Homo sapiens: one gene and its partners. The protein of the gene in region 7 purifies or fractionates together with the protein of the main gene of each other region. This does not show direct contact. Each region holds a gene or a part of one and is shown on either strand. Other genes may lie near its edges. The genes, in order: IL37, ESRP2, OBI1, SERPINB7, MEX3D, IQGAP3 and GALNT9.

Region 1 (2,609 bases), on a different chromosome or scaffold from region 7:
CCAGCACTGAGGACAAACAGCCATGGGGCCAGTGGGGGTGCAGGGACACCCACACCACTAAGGGCTCAGGGCGGCGCCTTCAGAGCCTGAACCTTCCTCTCATGCTGCCATTTGAACACCACAACACCCTAATAGGAAACTGTTAACATTGCCACTGTTCAGGTGTGGAAACCGAGACAGACAGTGGAGATTCCCTGCCCTAGGTGACACAGGTAATAAGTGACAGATGTGGAAATTTAAAGGTACTATAACGTCTGTCTGCCTGACTCAGGCTTAAGGCTCCCATCACCTCCTCTTCTCAGGACAGAGTCAGGAGGCCTCAGCCTGAGCCCCAGCTCTAGTGCAGGTTCATGTGGGAATACTGAGCCTCACTAGTACAATGGCAGAGAGGACCAAATGGGACCAGGTGTGTAAGGGTGCCTGGCACAGTTGGGGGAGGCTGCTGTCACTTCTCCACCGCTGCTGCTGCAGTTACCTTTGATGTTTTAGTTTTGTTGTAGTTACACCATTGCTGGCTTTGGATCTGCACTGTGTCCACTCCAGGTGGAACCACGCACACAAGCCTCTCTGTCGGGCCTGTCCTGACTTCTCCTTGTCAGGGCTGGGATCTCCTTCAAATCTGGCGGAAGTGGTTCTCCAAGTCTGGTCCTCAAACGTCAGCAGCATCAGCGCCTAGAAGTGTTAGGAATACACATTCCCAGGCCCCACCACAGACCTCCTGCCTCAGAAACTCAGGGCGCTGAGGCTCTAGGGGCTGCTTTAACAAGACTTCCAGGTTATCGTGACGCACCTTGAAAGTCTGAGAGCTACTGCCCTACAGAAAGTTACTAGTGCCCTAAAGCTGGCGCTGGCACTGATGTTACTGCTGCTGTTGGAGTACAACTTCCCTATAGAAAACAACTGCCAGCACCTTAAGACCACTCACACCTTCAGAGTGGCCTTGAGAAAGATTTGGGGTCAAGGATCATGAGCGAGAACACCACTTAAGAGGATAGTGAACTAGTCTGCATGTGAGACGCTGAGATCCTATGTCAGGCTGTGATAGGAGGGAAACAGAAACCAAAGGAAAGAACAGCTTTAAGAAGCGCTTAAGAGGTACAAAGTAAAATGATGGTGCTAGAAAAGTAGCTTCTTAAAAAGAGCATTTTCCAGTCTCACCCTGGACTAACTGAATGAGAATCTCAGGAGTGTGAGGCCCAGGTATCCATGGTCTTAAAATGCCACCCACCAGGTGATTCCCAGTGTGCACCAGGGGTGAGAGTCACAGCCTTAGGCCATGCCACTCAAAGGGTGTCTTCAGACCAGCAGCACCCACAGCTCTGGGAGTGCATCAGAAAGACAGAGGCTTGGCACCACCCACACCTACTGAACCATAGTTTGCAGGTGATTTCTTGCACATTAAAGTGTGGGAAATGGAAAAGCTTAGAGTTCAGCTAGCTCGGTGACTCTCAGTCAACCTGCACCTGCTCCATGAACTCAGACTGCCTGGGATGGGCCCAGAAAAGCTCCTGAGGAGATTCTGATGTAAGGCAGGGCTGATAACCATGGATCTCATCTGACCCCATATCACTGGGGAGTTACTTAGGATCTTGCCTGGGGCCAGTCATCTCTTCCATAGACACTGAGAGTGTCCACGATGCTTGGGGCACTACAGGGTGGGAGGTGGAGGATCACGGGTGAGTCAGATAGGAAGCCTGCTCCTGGGGAGCTTACAGTGCTATAGGGCAGCGAGCCAAGGATGCCAATACCTGTGTGCAGGTACCACTGACGAGTGCAGAGCGCTGCAGCACCAGAGAGGAAGCTACCCTGTGCAGAGGGGGCTGAGGAGGGCTGCAGGGAGATGACAGGAAAGCCGGTGTTACAGGAGGAGTCCTCCCCACTCTTTGGGCATGAGGAGACCAGGAGGACATTCTACAGTGAGAAACCCAGGCAGAGGCCATGTGCTTATGGCATGGGAAAAGAATGACACCTTAGACTTATTCTCTACATTAGAATTGCCTACCACAGATACCCATATTATAGCTTCACATAGTGTGGTGGTTACTGTGTTTTCATATTGTCACATTTGCCATTTTCCAGCCACCCACCCATTCTTGACAGTCACTGGCCCAGCCTGGGGGCCCCTGTTCTTTATCAAACAAGTGCCTGAGCTCTTTGCAGAGGTGAGGGTCACCTGTCCAATCAGAGGCCAGGAGGGAACGTTCCCTTTTAAGACCCTACTCTAGGCAGGCCTGGCCCAAATGAGTTGCTAGGAGCCCACGCCCTAAGAACCCTCTGAGCACTGTTGTGGCTGGTCCTGCTGCTAGAAGTTGTTCCTCCAGGGCCAGGTGCAAGATTTGTGGCTTTTCAAAGGAGCCACTAAAGCTCCAGCTCAGCCTTGCACCGTGCTGGGCTCCTGGGGGCTTCCTGCCTCCAACCCTCCCAACTCTTCCATCACCGCTCCCTTAGCCTGGCCAGTGCAGGGATCTGTTCCACTCTAGGCACTGCTGAGGGAATGATGCCTCCAGTCAGAGGGTGCAAAAAAGAGAGTTAAGAAAAACAATGATTATAAAAAGTCCTTTTTATACGCCAGACATTTTCTTTGCTCAGGCTAAGTGCTACTTATTTGA
Region 2 (2,298 bases), on a different chromosome or scaffold from region 7:
GCTAAGAGAATATCACAGTCCCACTCCCTGTCCCAATCTGGGGAAAGGTCACGATCCCCTTTCTGGACCAGATAACTCCTCCCTTGAGATGACAAGGGAGTAAGGTGGCAGCTGGCTAATGCCATCTACAAAACAGATCGAAAATGACTCTGTAGAGGCTGGGGCTTCAGGGAGGAACTGAATTAAGCACAAGGCAGAAACAAGGGAGGAGGGAAACAGGTCTCGGTCTAGGCCACAGGTGGCATGCATGACTAAACCTTGTCTCTCCCACCCTAGCCCCCCAGTCTCCCCCACCACTGTGGGCTACCTCACTACACCCACTGCTGCCCTGGCCTCTGCTCCCACCTCAGTGTTGTCCCAGTCAGGAGCCTTGGTCCGCATGCAGGGTGTCCCATACACGGCTGGTATGAAGGATCTGCTCAGCGTCTTCCAGGCCTACCAGGTGAGATTGTGTGGCCGGAGGGCCTGGCGGGTCTGGCTGAGCTCTCTGCCCTAAATCTGTGTCCCTTCTGTAGCTACCCGCTGATGACTACACCAGTCTGATGCCTGTTGGTGACCCACCTCGCACTGTGTTACAAGCCCCCAAGGAATGGGTGTGTTTGTAGGAGAGAAAGCCAGGAGGTAAGAGCCAGCTGATATCCTCGGCGAACATGTCTCTCCTGAGTCCAGAAGACCAGCACCCTCAACCTGGTAGCTTCTTTCTGGCTTGTCAAAGCTCTCAGAAGGTACCTAGAGGAGCCCAAGCCCCAGCTCCATCCTCCACTTATTCTGCCTGTTTCCCCCAAAGACAATGGCTGGACCCTGCATGCAGGGCTGGGGGTGGAATGGGGCTAACCAGCTCCTGATGGCCTGAGCCAGGCATCTTGACTGGCACCTGGAGAGCCCTTAAGTCTGTCCTGGCTGTGGCCCATGCCGACAGATATCGTGGGGCTGACAGGTCCACGGCAGGCTTGCTTTCTTTTATAAAATGGAAGCTCTGGTACCTTCAATGTATGACTCCTGGGAGAATCAAGGGTCCATCTGAGCCTCTGAGTAAAGATCCCAATGTTCTACCTCTCCCTGTCCCTCTTGTAGGGGATAGGGAGGCAGAGAGAGCCAGCCCCTACCCTCAGAGTATCTGGACCTCAGAGACCATGTTGTGCCAGGGGTGGTCCCACCTAAAGATGCTAGCCCCTCTCCAGGTGGGCATAAGGAGTAACAGATGGCAAAACCACAAACTATTTTGATGGACTGTGCTGCAGTATCACCAGAAGACATTAGGGGGCAGTAGGCCCCCACACAAAACCTTCAGGCTTGAATTTTAAAGGGGAGGACTTTCTGCCAACTTTTCTTGTATGCCTTGGGAAAGCCAGTTGCCCTGAACCCAGCAGACACCATGGAATGTCCTTTGCACGCATTAAATGGTACAGAACTGAAGCCTCGGAAGCAATTTGGAACTCGATCTTCTCTTCCTTAAATGAAAAGTTATTGACCAAATGGACTTTTTAAAAGACACAGGACCCTTAACTTTGCCCCAAAGTGAGGGGCTCCACACCAACCCCAGGCGGAGGAACACTCAGACAGATTAAGGATACTGTTGACCTGTCACTGTTTATTATTTCAGCACTAAAACTGAGGAGCCTCAACTGCTGGCTCTTCTTCCCTTTGTATTTGTGTAAGGAGCACTGCACTCCCATAAAAGGTTTTAAAATACAAAATGTACAAGAACACACAATTCCAAGTGCTGTAAACATAACTGAGAACCAGTTCCTTTACTAAACATCCATTTTATAAAACACAAGGTTTCAATTTGAGCCCATCTGAGCCTTAAAGATCCATTCTGAATACCAAAAACAGGGCTTCACAGCCAGGCCCAGAAGAGGTCTGGTGATAATGGCTGGCCCTGGGTGGGGATAGTTTACACCCGGGCAGCAGCACCACACATGAACCCAAAGACATGTTCTTTTTAAAGCTGTTTTCAGCCATGTTTCTCTGTGCATCTCCAGTAAGCAGAAGGCTACCCATTCCATTCCTCAACCCAAGAGCTAGCACAGTTAGAGTAGGAGGGGGTGCGTACTAGCACGTGCCCAGTTGCTCAGTGCTGCTAGTAGAAATTGATTTGCATAGTCCAATGGATGTGTGCTTTAACACCACTATGTTGCACAAAAATTTAAGTCTTTATCTACAAAGCCAAAAAATATTGACTCTTAACACCAAAGCTTTTACAAAGCTGATATAAAACTGCTTACATAGTATACAAAGCTCTATTTTAAAATTTAATGTTTATTTTAAATAGGAAAGCATTTCTAGTGCTACAGG
Region 3 (3,500 bases), on a different chromosome or scaffold from region 7:
TTCCGAAGATGCTTCCTGACCGTATGGCTTAGCATAGGTTCACTTTCACTTGTTCCTCCTGTAGGGAAAAAAAAAAAAATCCTAATTTTTCATTCTGATTCGGGAAGAATGAAAATGATCCTTTTTCATATTGTTTTATATAGCTTCCCAGCTTCACATCTACCCTTCCCCTTACATACACACTTGGGGCTTACATCTAGGCCTTTTCTCTACCCTAATCTTGAGGAAAAAAAAATATATCAAATAACACCATAAGAAATACCTTCAGTAACACATCATATTGTATTTACATATCTACATATCTTATCACAGCAAACTCAGTGGAGGAAAGGGCTGTAATTATCACATTTGGACTACTTCAAATTCTGAAAACTAGACTATATTTAAATAATAAAACCAATTATTACATTTACATTTAACCAAGAGATTATATAAAAATGTATTACTGGCTGGGTGCAGTGGCTCACGCCTGTAATCCCAGCACTTTGGGAGGCCGAGGCGGGCGGATCACGAGGCCAGGAGATAGAGACCATCCTGGCTACAGTGAAACCCTGTCTCTACTAAAAATGCAAACAAACAAAATTAGCCGGGCGTGGTGGCTGGCGCCTGTAGTCCCAGCTACTCAGGAGGCTAAGGCAGGAGAATGGCATGAACCCGGGAGGCGGAGCTTGCAGTGAGCCGAGATTGCGCCACTGCACTCCAGCCTGGGCGACAAAGCGAGACTCCGTCTCAAAAAAAAAAAAAGTATTACTGCTATATACCTATGTATATAGATTAATGTGTCTTTTCACGGATTCTAACAGGCTAGTTACAATGGACTGTAAGTCATGGCATTAACTCTATGTCATGACTTGTTACAAATGCACTCACAATGAATTCTTCCTGAGAGCTCTTCACTGATGCTCTGGTTACCTTCTTTGTATTTTTTAGCATTATAATAATAGCAAAGGTATTTTACAGGTGTTCTTTTTCAGGATGTTCTATCCAAATGCAAAAATGGATGAACTATTTTCCTTGAGAGAATTTATGAAATATCACTTAGGTATGAATGAATAAAGGTAGGATATGGGATGAGAAGAAAAGCTGGGGGAAAATATTCAAATCATCAAAGCTCATATTCTGCAAGAAAAGACTTGACTCCTTGGTGAAATTCAGCAGGTAAAAAAAAACAGATAGAGGTTAACCCCGTAGCATGCAACACAGCAGAGAACCAGTCCTCTACCAGACTTCACCCAGGTACCAAGAGCCAACTCTGATTGCGCCTTCAGATCTCTTATTTCCTAAGTCCTACTAGTTCTTCTTTTGCTCTGTAGCATATATATTCCTTTCTATTTCCTTTGTAAAAATCTTGGCTGGGCACGGTGGCTCACGCCTGTAATTCCCAGCACTTTGGGAGGCCAAGGCGGGCAGATCACCTGAGGTCGGGAGTTCGAGACCAGCCTGACCAACATGGAGAAACCCCGTCTCTAATAAAAATACAAAATTAGCCGGGCGTGGTGATGCATGCATATAATCCCAGCTACTTAGGAGGCTGAGGGAGGAGAATCGCTTGAACCCAGGAGGCAGAGGTTGCGGTGAGCCGAGAACGCGCCACTGCACTCCAGCCTGGGTAACAAGAGCGAAACTCTGTCTCAAAAAAAAAAAATCTTATTTAAGTCCATTTTCCCTAACTTGGGACTATTACAATGACTTCTTAAGTTTTCTGAAAAATGTTTTCTATACTTGGCTAATTGTAGATTCACTTTCAATTTTTCCTATAGCAAAAACAAGTAGAAATCATTTTAATTTTTGCAACCTAAAATAAATAACTTATATGAGTAGAATAAAAACCAAACTCTAAAAAGGCTCTTTAGAAGTTCTCCTTTTCAAGGATCCTCTAGTTCAAGCTTTACTCCTCCCCCACCCCACCAATATTAATGTGACATAGAATTTGTTTTCACCCTTAATCCAAACTTACATTTTCTATCACCTAGGCAAAAGCCTCCTACCAGACCTACTCACATCCTGTCTACTCCTATAGTCCAACCTATGTATTACCACAAGTAATATTTGTAAAGCACATTTTGGATCATACCACTCCCTTGCTCAAAACCATCATGCCCAATTCACCCTTCTTCTTAGTCCTAGAGCAAGTCCCTGATTTAGCTGTCATTCAAGGTTCTCTGCACTAAAGTCTCAATTTACCTTTTGTCTTATCTCAGTAGTCGGACCCAAAGTAGACTACTGATCATTTCTAAAAACATGCTCTGGGTTTTCCTGTATCTAAACTTTTTAGTTCATGCTATTCTCCCTGCAGGAAATGCCCTCCTTAATTTTCACCGTTGAAATGTTATCCATCCTTAAATTTAAATGTCCAGCTTAAAGGCCACCTACTTTATGAAGCCCTTCTCGGTGTTCTTAGCTGAAGTTTCTTGCCTGAACTCTCTGGGCTTTTTTGGGGCCCTTAGCACTTGCTGCTTTTCTTTTGGTTCAGTTGCTATGAAAATGTAAGTTCCGTGAGGCTCTCAGGGTTATTCCTCTTAGCACCTCTCAGTGCCTTGTGCCCCAGTTGCTCCACATATACATTACACAAATTACTCAACCACTCAGTATTATGTTGGCCAAATAGCATCACTGAAAATAGCCTATTTCAGTCTTCCTCGAAATATAAATTATTTGGAGATTGTTTCAAACCTATTCCTATGCATATATAAAACAGGCCCTTACCTATAATTTCTTTGCAAGGATTTTCAGGAGTGATGGGGACTCTGCAAGCTGGACACTGGCTATTATTCTTCAACCACAAATCAATACAAATCGAACAAAATACATGGTTGTTGATGCATATGACAGGCTGACGTACCTTTGAAAAAAGAAATCACTTTTAGTACAGGACAACGGTCATAATTAGAAGATCAAATGGTTTAGTTTACAGCAAACTGCTTCTCTAGATTATAGCAGAGTAGGAGTTTAAGAAGGGATATCTAGCGCTTTTAAAAACACTGCTTCTGTTGGTCACTTTTCTTTTTACACATGTTTAACAGAGATACTAGATGAGATACTGGATCATGGAGACTGAAGCTTTTGACATATAAAATGCTTTATTTTGTACCTAAACCACAGAATTCATGCCAAAAAGAAAATGCTTTTTGTTCCACTAAGGCTGGGACAATTTTGCTCAAACTCTTCTATTTTAGCATTATAGAACAGCAGGATTAGGTTTTTGAAAATATCATTTAGCACAATCATCCATCTGATGCCCGAATCCTTTTCTCAATTCATTCCACTGTTACAGAATAACAGCAACTATTAAATATTGTATTGATACTTTACTAGAAATTCCCCAAAACCAAACAGTAATGAAAGCTAAAACAACCCAAAAGGCATGAGCTTCACTCTCAAGTAGTTTATAATCTAAACAGCAAACAATGCAGACAGAATTACTGAGATACACCAAATACACAAATCTTTGACTCCAGGCTCCATTTAAACAAGCACAAATAATAATACCTTACATTTAT
Region 4 (3,500 bases), on a different chromosome or scaffold from region 7:
GATATGGAAACTCTTCTAATAGTCAGGTAAAGACAATATGTTCTTTTAGAAAAAGAGAAGGTGAGCCAGGTGCAGGGGCTCAAGCCTGTAATACCAGAACTTTGGAAGGCTGAGGCGGGTGGATGACTGGAGCCCAGGAGTTCAAGACCAGCCTGGGCAACATGGCAAAACCCCATCTCTGCAAAATATACAAAAATTAGTTTATAATCCCAGCTACTTGGGGGGCTATGGTGGGAGGTTAGCTTAAACCCAAGAGATGGAAGTTGGAGAATGTGGAACTATCCTTTCAAAGCAAAGAAACATGCTTTATTCAGATTTCCAGATTGTGAATTTTTCAAGTAAAATTTTTGATAATTTACTTGTTATTTATTACTTTAGTAATATTTTATTTGCATATTGGCCATATTTGGGCAAGAAAGGATGAAGTTAAATGTTTTGCCTTTTTCTTTGTATATTCATAGACAACTTACATTGGTAAAATTAATTAATATATATGTTATGCAAAATCATTACCTTCTGTTAACAATTTTAAGTCCAAGTATTTAGTAAATTATTTCATTTGATCACAGACACTATTTTGAGAAAGGGTAAGACATAGATGTATGTGGCCTTGTTTGCCATTTTTATAGTATTTAAAAAAATTCTTTTATGGTATAATTTGCATGTTTTGTTTTATGTGTAAGTGAGATTATGCATATCTTTGCAGTCCAAAAATAAATTTTTATACATCTTTTTAATAACAGTCAGGGCTCCAGTCTCAACTGAAAAGAGTTTTTTCTGATATAAATGCATCCCACAAGGATTATGATCTCAGCATTGTGAATGGGCTTTTTGCTGAAAAAGTGTATGGCTTTCATAAGGTAAGTGAAACTGCCTTTGTTAGAAGGACCTGAATCTTGTTAAATCCATTATCTGAACAAAGGCTTGTGTCTTTCTACTGAGCAATACAAAGATGGTTTTGTTTCTCATTGCTACTTATTATGTTCTCAGATGTCTTGAATATATCATCACCATTTCCAAAGTTCAACTTTTTACCCAATTAATCCACATATTCAGGTTCATTAGACTGATAGGCTTCAAAACAGAAGAGAACGTGTCTATTGGTAGGGATGCTGAGCTGTAAATGGAATGGAGGAGCAGTCAGCCCATTTAGGGGTGTCCATGGCAGGAAACACATTCTGGGTTCAAGCAATAATCCCACCTCAGCTTCCTGAGTCGCTGTGACCACAGGTGCATGCCACTATGCCCAGCTAATTTTTTTGTTGTTGAGAAAGGGTCTCTCTATGTTGCCCAGATTGGTCTTGAACCCCTGGGCTCAAGTGATCTTCTTTCTTCAGCCTCCCAAATTGCTGCAACTACAGGCATGAGCCATCTTGCCTGGCCAAATTTTATTTTTTATGTCACTTAAGTTTTATGTATTTTTTTTAAGGACATAGACAAGTCTTAGAAGGAGATCAACATGACATACTAGTTGGACTTTTTAAAAAAGTATAAATGCTTAGTGGCTTCTAGCTCTTCTAGAGCTTCTCTCTCTCTCTCTCTTTTAGACAGAGTCTAGCTCTGTTGCCCGGGATGGAGTGCACTGGCGCAATCTCGGCTCACTGCAACCTCTGCGTCTCGGGTTCAAGCGATTCTCCTGCCTCAGCTTCCCAAGTAGCTGGGATTACAGGCACGTGCCACCACATCCTGCTAATTTTTTTTTTTTTTTTTTTTTTTGTATTTTTAGTAGAGACGGGGATTTGCTATGTTGGCCTGGCTGGTCTCAAACTCTTGACCTCAGGTGATCTGCCCACATCAGCCGCCCAAAGTGCTGGGATTACAGGCATGAGCCACTACATCTGGCCTGAGTTTCTTGGAAGTGGTAGAGAATAGCAACATCTATATAACTATCCTGTCCCTCCCCACTGCTATCTTTATTCCTTGCTGACATCTTGCATGTATCAATCTCTTGCATGTTTCAACCTTCCTAGGCCATGGACTACTTAAAACTACTCTTTGTGCGGTGGCTCACGCCTGTAATCCCAGCACTTTGGGAGGCCGAGGCGGGCGGATCACAAGGTCAGGAGGTCAAGACCATCCTGGCTAACACGGTGAAACCCTGTCTCTACTAAAAATACAAAAAATTAGCCGGGCGCGGTGGCAGGCGCCTGTAGTCCCAGCTACTCGGGAGGCTGAGGCAGGAGAATGGCATGAACCCAGGAGGCGGAGCTTGCAGTGAGCCAAGATAGCGCCACTGCACTCCGGCCTGGGCGAAAGAGCGAGACTCTGTCTCAAAAAACAAAAAACAAATAAACAAAAAAACAAAAAAAAAATACTCTTTGTGTCAAAGTGGATGGATGAATGGATGTGTGGATGGAAGAATGAATTAATCAGTAGATGAAAAGAGCTGTATCCAAGGAAATCACACACAAAGCTTGCATTAGAGAGCTAGTCTTATCCTGCAGATAGACAAAGGACAACTAGTGAATCTTCATTATTAGGATGAAAATCCTATAAACTTTAACAGGAAATCCACTAACAATACATGGTTTGTAATACATCTTTCTCTTCTAATTCTGAACATCTTTCCACAAAAATATATTTGTGTATATTCATTGAATTACTAATGTGTTGATAAATTAGATCATTATGACTTTTTTTGTATTAAGAACAGCAAGTATTTCTTAGGCAACTATTATGTCCAAGGCAATGTGTTAGGTACTGGGAATAAAATAATAAGCAAGGCATATATAGTCTTGACTTCACAGAATTTGCTGTTTTGTGAAGGACTCAGACAATCTCAAAGGTAAAAAGGATGCATTATGATAACAGCTGTTAAGAAAAGAAATCAAGATAAACAGACTGTTAGGAAATGTAGGTGGGACCAGGCGTGGTAGCTCATGCCTGTAATCCCAGCACTTTGGGAGGCTGAGGCGGGAGGATCACCTGAGGTCAGGAGTTTGAGACCAGCCTGACCAACATGGTGAAACCCCATCTCTACTAAAAATACAAAAATTAGCCCAGCGTGGTGGCAGGCACCTGTAATCCCAGCTACTTGGGAAGCTGAGGCAGGAGAATCACTTGAACCCAGGAGGCAGATGTTGCAGTGAGCTGACATCACGCCATTGCACTCCAGCCTGCAAGGGGACAAGAGTGAGACATCGTCTCAAAAAAAGAATTAAAAAAAAAAAAAAAAGAAAAGAAAAGAAAGTGTGGGTGGAACCTAGAGAAGATATCTGTCCAGGAGAGACAGCCATACTTGGAACTAGAAAATGGGTAAGACATAATCATGAGCTATATGGGCCATTTCAGGCAGAAGGAATGTTGTTCAAACACCTCTAGTGAGAGAGGAAACATGGCATTTTTGAGCAACTGTCAGGAATGTAGTATCGTGGGACAGCAGAGTAAGGAGAAAGTGGCTATGACGTAAGCAGGGTGGGGATCAGCAGAGTCTTGTCGGCAAGTTTCAAGAGCTTGGGCTTTGTCTTGAGTGCAATAATGTAGCCTTGAAAAATTTGCAG
Region 5 (4,154 bases), on a different chromosome or scaffold from region 7:
TGGTGTGATCATAGCTCACTGCAGCCTCCACCTCCCGGGCTCAGGTGATCCTCCCACTTCAGCCTCCTGAGTAGCTAAGACTACAGGTGTGTACCACCACACCTGGCTAATTTTTTGTTGTTGTTTGTAGTAGAGATGGGGTCCTGCTGTGTTGCCCAGGCTGGTCTCAAACTCCTGGGCTCCAGTGATCCTCCTGCCTCAGATTCCCGAAGTACTAGGATTACGGGTGTGAGCCACTGACCCTGCCACTGTGGCTCTTTTTTTTTTTTTTTTTTTGAAATGGAGTCTTGGTCTGTGGCTAGGCTGGAGTGCAGTGGCATGATGTTGGCTCACTGCACCCTCCACCTCCTGAGTTCAGGCGGTTCTGCCTCAGCCCTCCCCAGTGGCTGGGATTACAGGCGTGCGCCACCACACCTTGCTAATTGCGGCTTTTTTTTTTTTTTTTTTTTTTTTTTTTTTTTTTTTTTGAGACAGTCTCGCTCTGTCACCCAGGCTGGAGTGCAATGGTGTGCGATCTCGGCTCACTGCAGTCTCTGCCTCCCAGGTTCAAGCGATTCTTCCGCCTCAGCCTCCCGAGTACCTGGGACTACAGATGCCTGCCACCACGCCTGGCTAATTTTTTGTATTTTAGTAGAGACAGGGTTTCACCATGTTGGCCAGGCTGGTCTTGAGCCCCTGACCTCGTGATCCACCCAACTTGGCCTCCCAAAGTGCTGGGATTACAGGGGTGAGCCACTGCACCCCGCTTTTTTTTTTTTTTTAGTTGGAGTCTTGCTTTGTCGTCCAGGCTGGGGTGCAGTGGTGCAATCTTGGCTCACTGCAACCTTCGTCTCCTGGGTTCAAGTGATTCTCCTGCCTCAGCCTCCCAAGTACCTGGGACTACAGGTGCCTGCCGCTACACCCGGATGATTGCTTGTATTTTTAGTAGAGACAGGGTTTCACCATGTTGGCCAGGCTGGTTTGGAACTCCTGACCTCAAGTGATCCACCTGCCTCGGCCTCCCAAAGTGCTGGGATTACATGGGTGAGCCACGGGCCCAGCCGACCCTACGTATTAAATTAATACTGTCAACGCCGCATATTAGGGTCCAGCTTGTGAACTTGGGGGAAACATTCACACCCCAGCCGTCACACTGCGGTTCCAGGGGAACATAAATTATGGCGCACACCTTTCAACCTAAAACAGGGTCCCCTTGCCGTCTTGCTTTTAGGCCAAACTCGAGCCCAGAGGGGAAACTGAGGCTGAGGGAAGAAGGGACGTGGCGTGTCTGAGGATAAAGTGTTGTTGGGCACAGGCTGGGAGGTAGGGGCTCCCTCACTGGCCCTGCAGCCTGCATGCCCAGCGGGGCTGAGCTGCGCAGGGGGCTCTGGGTCACCTTGTCCTTCCCCTCCCTCCCGGACAGGCTGCAAGATCAAGGCCCTGCGGGCCAAGACAAACACCTACATCAAGACCCCAGTGCGGGGCGAGGAGCCGGTCTTCATCGTGACCGGCCGGAAGGAGGACGTGGAGATGGCCAAGCGTGAGATCCTGTCGGCGGCCGAACACTTCTCCATCATCCGCGCCACGCGCAGCAAGGCCGGGGGTCTGCCCGGCGCCGCCCAGGGCCCGCCCAACCTTCCCGGACAGACCACCATCCAGGTGCGCGTGCCCTACCGGGTGGTGGGGCTGGTGGTGGGGCCCAAGGGCGCCACCATCAAGCGCATCCAGCAGCGGACGCACACCTACATCGTGACGCCCGGGCGCGACAAGGAGCCGGTGTTCGCGGTCACTGGGATGCCCGAGAACGTGGACCGCGCGCGCGAGGAGATCGAGGCGCACATCACGCTGCGCACTGGCGCCTTCACCGACGCGGGCCCCGACAGCGACTTCCACGCCAACGGCACCGACGTCTGCCTGGACCTGCTCGGGGCGGCCGCCAGCCTCTGGGCCAAGACCCCCAACCAGGGACGACGGCCCCCCACGGCCACGGCCGGCCTCCGCGGGGACACGGCCCTGGGCGCCCCCAGCGCCCCCGAGGCCTTCTACGCGGGCAGCCGCGGCGGCCCCTCCGTGCCGGACCCAGGCCCCGCCAGCCCCTACAGCGGCTCCGGCAACGGGGGCTTCGCCTTCGGCGCGGAGGGTCCCGGTGCCCCGGTGGGGACGGCCGCCCCCGACGACTGCGACTTCGGCTTCGACTTCGACTTCCTGGCGCTGGACCTGACCGTGCCCGCCGCGGCCACCATCTGGGCGCCTTTTGAGCGCGCCGCCCCCTTGCCCGCCTTCAGCGGCTGCTCCACGGTCAACGGAGCCCCGGGACCTCCCGCCGCCGGCGCCCGGCGCAGCAGTGGGGCCGGGACCCCCCGCCACTCGCCCACGCTGCCCGAGCCCGGCGGCCTCCGCCTGGAGCTCCCGCTGTCTCGCCGTGGCGCCCCGGACCCGGTGGGCGCGCTGTCCTGGCGACCCCCGCAGGGCCCCGTATCCTTCCCAGGCGGCGCCGCCTTCTCCACGGCCACCTCGCTGCCCAGCAGCCCCGCGGCCGCCGCCTGCGCCCCCCTGGACTCCGGCGCCTCCGAGAACAGCCGCAAGCCCCCTTCGGCGTCCTCGGCCCCGGCCCTGGCGCGAGAGTGCGTGGTGTGCGCCGAGGGCGAGGTGATGGCTGCGCTGGTCCCCTGCGGCCACAACCTCTTCTGCATGGACTGCGCCGTCCGCATCTGCGGCAAGAGCGAGCCCGAGTGTCCCGCCTGCCGCACGCCGGCCACCCAGGCCATTCATATCTTTTCCTAGAGCGCGGACCACCACGTGGCCGGGGCCATCTGCGGGGGCCAGGGGTGGGCGCGGGAGACGGGGCGGGACCCGGGGTGGGAGAGGGACGGGGAGGGGGCGAGGGGCGGAGGCCGAGGGGGCAGGGGGGTGGGCGGCGGCCAGTGTTTACAGATGAGCTTTAACTGCCGCCTCAGGCGTGGAGACGGAGACCCCGCAGCCCGGCGGCGCCTCAGCCCTTCAACGACAGTATTGAGTGGTCAGGTTACAATAAACCGGAGAGAAAAGGTCCGCTTGCACTTTTTTTAGTTTTCTTATTTTTAGACACCCCTCCCCTCCAGGGTGATCTTTAAAAAAGCAAAACAAAAAACACGACTTTTCCAGCGCTCAGCGTTTTTTCCTTTCGTCCGAAGCCGTTTTCTGATTTGACTTTTCTCGCCGGCCGGTCTCAGGCCGCACAGACGTTCCAGAGGAGGAGGGTGACATTTTTACTCCCTTTTTGGGGCTAACCATTTATGCTTTTGTACATCAACCGTGCGCGGCCGGAGGGGGCAGGGGGGCGGGGGCGAGGGGCGTTCCAATCAAATTTCTAACTTTCTGTTAATTATTAATCCCCTTTTTACTGCGGTTTCTGTTGTCATTTTTAAAATTTTTTTAATTTTTTTTTTTTTTTACTTTTACTTTTTACCTCTTGTGTATATGTAGGGAATTTATAGGGAAATATGTACTTTATGGAATAAATTTTAAGAACTAAAATATATTTTATTTTAAATAAAGTAATGGACCTTTAATCTTACACAGCTAAATTACTGATTATATATTTGCTGAGCTGATTTAAGGGTTAAAAAAATTGTATCAAGAGTTTTATTTTTTGACTTCAAAGCCTTCTTAATAAAGCCTCTTTTCTACATGTGAGCACACGGCTTCAGCGTGGTGTGGGGGATGGGCACCAGGAGGGGAGACCCCGGGGCAGGGGACACCCGGATCCAGCCCCTCAACCCCCCAGTTCCGTGGTCCAGGCCCTCACCCCGACCAGGCACTGTCCCTTGTTCCAGACGAAGGAATTGGGTCTGTGGGGGAGGGTCTAGCTGGGCTCCCCGTGAGCAAACCTCAGGTCCTCCCCATCCCTGTGGGTGTTCAACCATGGATCCCACAGAGAAAGGGGACCCAGGCTGTCCTTCCTCAGGGACATCTGCCCAGCTCTCTGGGTGTGTGGGATCCATCCCAACAGACCGTCCAGCGGTCGTGCAGATGGGGAAACTGAGGCCTGGAAATGCCCGTCCCAGGTTTGACCCCGATGCATCCTGGTCTGTGAAGGACGTTTGAGCCGTGGTCATCCCCCCACTGCTCTGGGAGCCATGACAGACACATGGGGCCACCAGATATAGCTCTTCAGGGCTGGGGTTGAGACCACA
Region 6 (3,500 bases), on a different chromosome or scaffold from region 7:
ACATCAGCCAGAAGCAGACACCTGTGCTCACCAGTAATGAGAACTCTGGAGGCCTACAGGATGAGGGATACAGCTTTAGCCTTGGGAAGCCTCGGGCTACAGAGTCATGGGGCCCCACCCCTCTCCCCACTTCACACACTGAAACAAGCACCAACACTAGGGCTATGGGGGGCACTGAGAGACCGTCTGGGAATGCTCCCCTGGAAGGCCTGCACTCAGAAGAGTGGTCTGCTAGAATGCCTGGAGGCAGGAGAAGGTAGTAGGCAGGTGGGGGGCCAGGGGCAGGTTGGGCCCGCTGGAGTGAAGACTGAACCAGGGTCTTCCCAAAGAAAAGGTGGGGATGGCCAGTAGAGGTATGTCCCAAAACAGAACAGACAGGTAAATGCCCCCAAACATCCTGTGCCGTCAGAAAGATCCATTGTTGGGAAGTCACAGCTAGTGTCTGTCCGGAATCCTTTATGCCATGGCCTGGGTTTGGTTCTCCTTTGGGCCACTCTTCCCCTGTGGTGATCTATGAGGCCCTCCCATGTGTGACACCATGCATTATGGTGTTATACCTTGATATTCTTCATAAGCGATGCCCTGCCCCAGCCATATCCTGCAGAGGCTGGGCTCTGGGGCACTTTCTTAATGATATGCAGAAAAATGCTCAGGCCTCCCTTTGTTGCTGGTGCCCATGGGACCTTCACTGGTGTGGGAGCAGAATGGTAGGACCTGGTAGACCCCTCCAGCGTCTGTGTGTCCCCAGGAAGCAGCCCACAAGCAGCTGATGAGCCGACGCCAGGCCTGTACAGCCCAGACACCGGAGCCACTGCGACGACACCGCTCACTGACAGCTCACTCCCTCCTGCCACTGGCAGAGAAGCAGCGGCGCGTCCTGCGGAACCTACGCCGACTTGAAGCCCTGGGGTTGGTCAGCGCCAGAAATGGCTACCAGGGGCTAGTGGACGAGCTGGCCAAGGTAACAACCTGGGCCTGGGCTCCGTGTGCCTGTGTGTACGTGTGTGTGTGTGCGTGCATATACATGTTAATCCATAGTGTTGGTGGGCCCCTCCTGATGAGTCCTCACCCAAAATTGTCACCAGCCAGAGGAAGGCTGAGGGTCCTTTTTGAAGGAAAGATTTTTTTTTCTTTTTTTTTTTTTTTTTTGAGACAGTCTCACTCTCATCCAGGCTGGAGAGCAGTGGTGTGATCCTGGCTCACTGCAACCTTCACCTCCTGGGTTCAAGTGATTCTCCTGCCTCAGCCTCCCAAGTAGCTGGGATTACAGGTGCGCGCTGCCATGCCCGGCTAATTTTTGTATTTTTAGTAGAGACACGGTTTCAGGCCATGTTGGCCTGGCTGGTTTCGAACTCCTGACCTCAGGGTCCGCCCATCTTGGCCTCCCAAAATGCTGGGATTACAGGTGTGAGCCACTGCACCCAGCCAAATTTTTGTATTTTTAGTAGAGACAGGGTTTCACCATGTTGGCCAGGCTGGTCTCAAACTCCTGACCTCAAGTAATCTGCCCACCTTAGGCTCTCACAAAGTGCTGGGATTACAGGTGTGAATCACCACTCCTAGCCTGAAGGAAAGATCTTGAAATTAGTTAGAGAGGAAGGTGTTCTTGCAACTCTCTTTTTTTTTTTCTTCCCCACATTAGCTGGGTAATGTGCCCAGGTCAGAAGGTTTGAGAGAAGCATATCTCACACAAGAGCATGAAAACCCAATCCTCAGCTTATGACCTACAAAAGTATCCTTGCAACTTTCTTTTACTAAAAAACAAACAGCCTTGAAACCAGTTAGTCCTCAACGGGCAGAGGCCCTGAGGACATGCCTTGAGGATTTGGAATACCATCCTTGAGATTTTCCTTCTAGGAAAACAGCCTTGAAGCCTGTTCTTCCGAAGAGCCTCACAGTGTGTAGCTCTTGGGCCTGTGTCAGGCCCTAAGGCTCTCCTGCCAGGAAGGACCACTCATCCCTCCATCTGTTCCCCAACCCCAGGACATCCGCAACCAGCACAGACACAGGCACAGGCGGAAGGCAGAGCTGGTGAAGCTGCAGGCCACATTACAGGGCCTGAGCACTAAGACCACCTTCTATGAGGAGCAGGGTGACTACTACAGCCAGTACATCCGGGCCTGCCTGGACCACCTGGCCCCCGACTCCAAGTAGGTGCTGCTTTCCCGTACTTGGAAGGTTACGAGTGACTTCTCACCCCTGCCCATGTCACCTTTGCCCTGCTATCTCCCAGCTTTGAAAGGGGAATCTCACCCAGCACAGCACAGTCCCTTCCTAAGTCTGGTCTTTGAGCCTCATTTACAAAGTCTTGGGCTCAAGTGCAGCCCCCCTCCTCTGTCTTCCATCAGTGAGAAGTCTTCCTCGGGGTCTCATTTCCTTTCCAGCCACAGAAAACAAGTTTCTTTGGTGGTAAAGTGTTTATTGGATGAATTCTCTGGGGCCTTCTTTTAATCAGGAGTTCTGGGAAGGGGAAGAAGCAGCCTTCTCTTCATTACACTGCTGCTCAGCTCCTGGAAAAGGGTGTCTTGGTGGAAATTGAAGATCTTCCCGCCTCTCAGTATGTGTCTTTGGAGGGCAGGATGTCAGCCCCTTCCTGTCCTCTAACCTGGGGGTGGAGCTCTGGGCTGGGCACCGGGTGGAAGAGAAGAAGCATGGTCCCGATCTTGAAGGAGCTGCTAGAATGATGGTGGAGACAGAGCATGCCCAGACAGAAAGTGAAGGGCTGTGGACATGGTCTAGCACAGTTCTAGATGCCCTGAGGCAGAGGGTACTGGGAAAGCTTTCCAGAGGTGAGAACAGCTGCGTAGGGCGGGGCAGATAAAGAGATGGTGTGGGGAGCAGAAGTAAAATGGAGAAGACAGCGAGCTGGGCCCTCTGGGAGTGACAGAGGGAAAACTGGTTCTGGATGACACCGCTGCCCAGGATGAGGAGCAGTGGGTGCAAGAATGTGGCTGTAGCCCTGGAAAGAGGCAGTGGGTTCCTGTTTTGAATCCTGTTCCTGACAGCTTCAGAAACGTCATCTTTGACATCACGCCGGGAGATGAGGCAGGAAAGTTTGAAGTAAATGCCAAGTTCCTGGGTGTGGACATGGAGCGATTTCAGCTTCACTATCAGGTGAGGGGACAGTCCCATGAGCCTGCAGGACATCTGCTGGGCTTTAGGTGCTGGCCTGAAGAGAGCAGCTGGCCTCACTTTCCTAGTCCTCAGATGACACCAGCTCAGTTTTTCACCCAATCAGTATCGTCTGTTCCTGAAGAGAAGGGTGGGGGTCTGTGCAGCCCAAGCCCCCCTTTCCCCATGCCCTGACACAGACCCCACTGGCAAGCATCAGGGAGAGTGGAGTGGGCTACTGGTGTCAGAAGCAGGATTAATATTTGAAGCCCTATCACATGTCAGGGACTTTACATGTTACCTCCTTTAATCCTCTCCACAGCTCTGAAGTATTATCCCTATTTTACAGGCTCTAGGCTAAAAGGTTAAGAAGCTGGCTAAGTCATAGG
Region 7 (4,279 bases):
TGTGAACATGCACAGACATGAACACACATGAACACAGAGACATATATACATAGAAACATGCACATATGAACACACAAACACAGACATGCACACACAGACACACAGACACTCGTACACAGATACACAGACAAATGCACACATGGACACACAAACACAGACACATAGATGCACACAGATATAGAGACACATGCACACATGAACAAACAGAGATGAACACAGAGATATGCACACATGTGAACACACACACAGACATACATAGACACATACACAAATACACACAGGCACAGACAGACACATGCACACGCATGAACACACACAGAGACAATGCACACAGACACAGGCACATGCACACACAGATACATGCACACACGGGCACACAGACATGCACACAGAAACACGTGGACACATGCACATGCATGCGTGCTGACAACACAGACATGCACATATGCAGATACACAGGCACACAGAGGCAAATGCATGCACACTCATGCACACACACGGACACACACACAGCCAAGAGCTGTGAAGCCCCTTGCCTTACTCATCTCTGTATGGAGAGCCAAGCACAGCCATGCTCTTAATAAATGCTCCGTCATTTATTCACTCATCCCGCAAATGTTTACTGAACACCAGCTATGTGTCCAATCTCTGGGAACACAGGGGTGAACCCTGCCTTTGGGTGAAACTCCTGCCTCTTGGGTGCTTGCATTCTGCCAGTGGAAGTTGGGCCCCTGTGCTGCGCGGCTTGGCTGACATCTCCCCTGGCTTCCAGGGTCTCCTCCACAAAACGCCAGTGTGGGGCCAGATCAGAGCCTGGGCTGGGGGTGGGGGCAGCCGGGGTTTGCGGCCTCGGGTCTTACCTGCGAGCCTGGCTCAGGGACGGGGCCTTCTCCCTCCTGGTGGCTCCAGGGCCCCCTGCTGTTCCCGGAGGTCCGGCTGCATCCCAAGCCCCAACCCCCCCATACCCGTCCCGGGACTCAGCTTCCCCAGTCCTCAGCCCTGGACGGGGGAGAGGGAGGGAGGCCGGGAGCTCGGCTTGGGGAGGGGTGGGCAGGAGACTACCAGAGTGGCCCTGACCCGGGTCCTGCCCCGGCCGCCCCCTCCCCCATTCACTCCCGGCGACACCGCCCTGGCCAGGCATTCCCGGAGGCCCCGCTGCCCTCGGGTCAAGCTTGGGGTCGATTCGGACCGTGCTGGCCGTTGGGGGCCCCGGGCGTCTGGCGGGTCCTGGGGAGGGAGGGTCCGCGCCTGCCCCGCCCCCGCTCCCCGCGCCCGCGCGCCCTTGGCCCAGGCTACCCCGCGCGCCCCGCCCCCCGTCCCCCGCCCCCCGGACCTGCTGTCCTGGGGTCCCCGGGGGGGCGCGGTGGGGGGGGCGGGGCAGGCGCGCGGGGCGGTCCCGGGGGGCGGCCTTGAGGGGTGGGGGAGGCGGGGCGGGGCGGTCCTGGGGCCGCGGTTGCAGATGAGGTGAGGTGAGGCCGCGTCACTCTGCACCGGCGCGGTGGCTGCGGGGCGGGCAGGACAGGAGCCGGCACAGACACCGAGCGCCGCCCGCCCGCGCCTTCCCCGCCGCCCCCCGGCGCCCCCGGCCCCCCTCACCGCTCCCCGGGGCGGGGCCGCGCCCTCTGAGCGGGGGATGCCGGCCGCGCCCCGCGACCCCAGCCCCGGGCAGCCCTCTGCGCTCTGGGGGACCCCCGGCGGCCGTGGCCCGGCGCGCTGAGCTGGTGCTGAAGGGACAGCTCCGGCCGAGCCCCGCAGCCCCCGCAGCCCCGGGCGGCTCATGGTCCCCGAAGCCGAAGCTGAAGCCCAGGCCCGGGCGGGGATGCTGGGGATGCCCCGCGGGTGAGGCCCCCGCTGCAGCCGTGTTCATGGCGGTGGCCAGGAAGATCCGAACTTTGCTGACGGTGAACATCCTGGTGTTCGTGGGCATCGTCCTGTTCTCCGTGTACTGCCGCCTGCAGGGCCGCTCCCAGGAGCTCGTGCGCATCGTGAGCGGCGACCGCCGGGTGCGCAGCCGACACGCCAAGGTGGGCACGCTGGGGGACCGTGAGGCCATCCTGCAGCGCCTGGACCACCTGGAGGAGGTGGTCTACAACCAGCTCAACGGTGAGCGGGGGCGCCGGGGCGGAGTGGGGGCAGCCCTGCCCGGGACAGTGGCCACCCCGGGCGCGATGGGTCAGGCCGGCCTCGGGTGCGCGCCCCTCTGCGCCCCTGTGGGAGGGAATATACAGGAGAGAGGAGAGGGAAGGGCCGCGGAAGCCCCTTCAGCAGCGGGCAGCAACCTGGGTTCCCCCCGCACCGGGCACCCACCCCTCCAGTGGAGACTTGAGGAATCCCCCTGCCCCCACAATGACGCAAACTTGCTCTCCGAGGGAACTTCTGCAGAGGATCTTTGGAGCTGCTCTAGAAGCAGGCAGTGCCTAGGTCCAGGAGTGTGGGGTGGGGGGCTGGCTTGGCGCTCCAGGAGTGGGGGCCGTCAGGTTTAGGCTGCGCCGACCCCTCCACTCTTGAAGGTGGGGAAAGAGGAGGGTGGGGACGCCACACTTGGGAGGCTGCTGGTGCAGTGTCCTTTGCCCCTGAGGTTCGAAGGCACCCCAAATGCTTCGACCACTGGGCTAGGCGGCCCCCTGTCCTGGGGGTGCCCGAGGCCGCGTTAGAAAGTTGTTATGGGAGAAGCTTGAAGCTGAGACCTGAGACTCCTGGGAGGATGGAGTTGAGGATCATGCAGGGCTTGGCAGGACTCATTACCCAGGGGGGCCCAAGTTGTGGCACCTGGGAGCCCCAGAATCCATGAAAGCCTCCAGCTCCCGGTGGGTCTGTTTCATCACGAGCGGACGTAGGTCAGCCCGAGGAGCAGCACCGGCATCACCACAGGTCAGGGCCAGCGGCCACAGCTGCTGAGAGCAAGCACTTTTCCAGCTGCTCCACCTTCCCGGAGGAGCAGCCGCCCCCAAGGCCACTCTGCACCGGGGCGCCAGGAAGGAGAAAGTTTGCATGTGCCTACATCACTAGCTGGTGTGGCTTTCCGTTCCGTGCCGATGATTCAGGCTTCTGCCTTGGCAGCCCCAGCAAACCTCCTCCAGAAAGCATCCGTAACAGGCTCGAGTGGGAGGTGACGGGAGCTGGGGTTACGCGGGCAGGCGGGGGCTCCGGATGTGCCTGCTGTGTGTGGGGGCAAAGGCGGGGGGTGGTCTTGCGTTTCCTTCAGGAGCCACACCCTCTCTTGAGGGTGGGCTGCAGACAGGCCGTGGGGTGGGAGGGGGAGGTGAATCCCCATGAGGAGGGGTTGTCCCAGCTTTGTCTGACTCAGAGCACCCTGACTTCCTGAGCGCCTTCCCATCACCCACAGAATCCCTGACTTTCCCGCAGAGCTGTGCTTGGTGAGCTCTGTGGCTTCTCTGATCTTTCTGATTCAGCTGGAGCCACGAGGGGAGAAAAGTAGTTCAAGCAGCCGCCCAGCCGCCCGGCAGAGCAATTCATCTCCCGGAAGGCGGTGTGCCCGGCAATAGCACATGGCTCTATTGAAGTGTGCTCGCCATGGTGTTATGGTCTGTTTTATGGGGAGAGCCAGAGGATTACATAAAAACATTGGCAGCACACTGAGGTTGTGTAACACCACGAGGGCAGCTCGGCCCTGTGAGTCGTTTTCCCTGCCTCACCCTTCAAGGTGAGAATCGGCTGGGATTCTTGGTGGTGGAAAAAGCCAGGACCCATGATCCGCTTTGCTGACATTGGCGGGAGATAAGGAAGCATTCCGGGAAAGTGTGTCTCCCCCCACCGCCCACCGCCCCCACTGCCTTCTCCCATCCCGCTTCCTCCTGTCCTCTGTCCCCTCCCTTCTTCCTCTTCGCTTCCCTCCCCCTTCCTCCTTTCTTTCTTTTAAAATTGTTTCTCCTTCTTTCCTTCATCCTAGCTGTCCTCCCTTGTCAGCCTTTCTCCGAACGGCCCCTGCCATCTGTCTGCCTCTGTCTTTGCCCTCAACCTTTTGATGAGGCCGAGTTTCGTCCCCCTCTGTGATGAGGCTGTGCTGCGTTCCTCTCTGTGACCAGCAGGCCAGGCACAGTGTCTAAACCCAAGAGTCAGTCAATCTTTGCCCCAGGAAATGATGGGAGACACCAAAATTACTCTCACCCCCGGTGGGGCCCTACGGGGAGGGCGGTGCCGTAGAGGCCTGATGTCTGTCGCCATGAGGCCCTTTGAAACAGCATTACCCGCTCTGATGTTGGCACAGGCTCTCAGTGCTAAAAGGTGTGTAAGAAGCTCCCTGGAGGAGGCGGCCAGC

The links.
Region 1: the proteins of GALNT9 (region 7) and IL37 purify together in Homo sapiens (affinity purification with mass spectrometry; one large-scale study listed by BioGRID and IntAct). This does not show direct contact.
Region 2: the proteins of GALNT9 (region 7) and ESRP2 purify together in Homo sapiens (affinity purification with mass spectrometry; one large-scale study listed by BioGRID and IntAct). This does not show direct contact.
Region 3: the proteins of GALNT9 (region 7) and OBI1 purify together in Homo sapiens (affinity purification with mass spectrometry; one large-scale study listed by BioGRID and IntAct). This does not show direct contact.
Region 4: the proteins of GALNT9 (region 7) and SERPINB7 purify together in Homo sapiens (affinity purification with mass spectrometry; one large-scale study listed by BioGRID and IntAct). This does not show direct contact.
Region 5: the proteins of GALNT9 (region 7) and MEX3D purify together in Homo sapiens (affinity purification with mass spectrometry; one large-scale study listed by BioGRID and IntAct). This does not show direct contact.
Region 6: the proteins of GALNT9 (region 7) and IQGAP3 purify together in Homo sapiens (affinity purification with mass spectrometry; one large-scale study listed by BioGRID and IntAct). This does not show direct contact.

Annotation. Positions count from the first base shown.
Region 1 is NC_000002.12:112,914,165-112,916,773, forward strand, and holds part of IL37 (interleukin-37), read left to right. Parts: intron 1-1,028; coding exon of another isoform or gene 1,029-1,095; intron 1,096-2,609. UniProt on the Homo sapiens protein: Immune regulatory cytokine that acts as a suppressor of innate inflammatory and immune responses involved in curbing excessive inflammation.
Region 2 is NC_000016.10:68,228,533-68,230,830, reverse strand, and holds the end of ESRP2 (epithelial splicing regulatory protein 2), read left to right. Parts: intron 1-276; coding exon 277-442; intron 443-515; coding exon 516-605; 3' UTR 606-1,798; downstream 1,799-2,298. UniProt on the Homo sapiens protein: mRNA splicing factor that regulates the formation of epithelial cell-specific isoforms. Specifically regulates the expression of FGFR2-IIIb, an epithelial cell-specific isoform of FGFR2.
Region 3 is NC_000013.11:78,642,156-78,645,655, forward strand, and holds part of OBI1 (ORC ubiquitin ligase 1), read right to left. Parts: intron 2,843-3,500; coding exon 2,707-2,842; intron 1,398-2,706; exon of another isoform or gene 871-1,397; intron 59-870; coding exon 1-58. UniProt on the Homo sapiens protein: E3 ubiquitin ligase essential for DNA replication origin activation during S phase.
Region 4 is NC_000018.10:63,792,418-63,795,917, forward strand, and holds part of SERPINB7 (serpin B7), read left to right. Parts: coding exon 1-26; intron 27-743; coding exon 744-860; intron 861-3,500. UniProt on the Homo sapiens protein: Might function as an inhibitor of Lys-specific proteases. Might influence the maturation of megakaryocytes via its action as a serpin.
Region 5 is NC_000019.10:1,554,172-1,558,325, reverse strand, and holds the end of MEX3D (RNA-binding protein MEX3D), read left to right. Parts: intron 1-1,402; coding exon 1,403-2,763; 3' UTR 2,764-2,936; coding exon of another isoform or gene 2,937-2,995; 3' UTR 2,996-3,654; downstream 3,655-4,154.
Region 6 is NC_000001.11:156,527,566-156,531,065, reverse strand, and holds part of IQGAP3 (ras GTPase-activating-like protein IQGAP3), read left to right. Parts: intron 1-748; coding exon 749-961; intron 962-1,636; exon of another isoform or gene 1,637-1,736; intron 1,737-1,983; coding exon 1,984-2,150; intron 2,151-2,455; coding exon 2,456-2,557; intron 2,558-3,005; coding exon 3,006-3,114; intron 3,115-3,500.
Region 7 is NC_000012.12:132,326,790-132,331,068, reverse strand, and holds the start of GALNT9 (polypeptide N-acetylgalactosaminyltransferase 9), read left to right. Parts: upstream 1-1,479; 5' UTR 1,480-1,865; coding exon 1,866-2,103; intron 2,104-4,279. UniProt on the Homo sapiens protein: Catalyzes the initial reaction in O-linked oligosaccharide biosynthesis, the transfer of an N-acetyl-D-galactosamine residue to a serine or threonine residue on the protein receptor. Does not glycosylate apomucin or SDC3.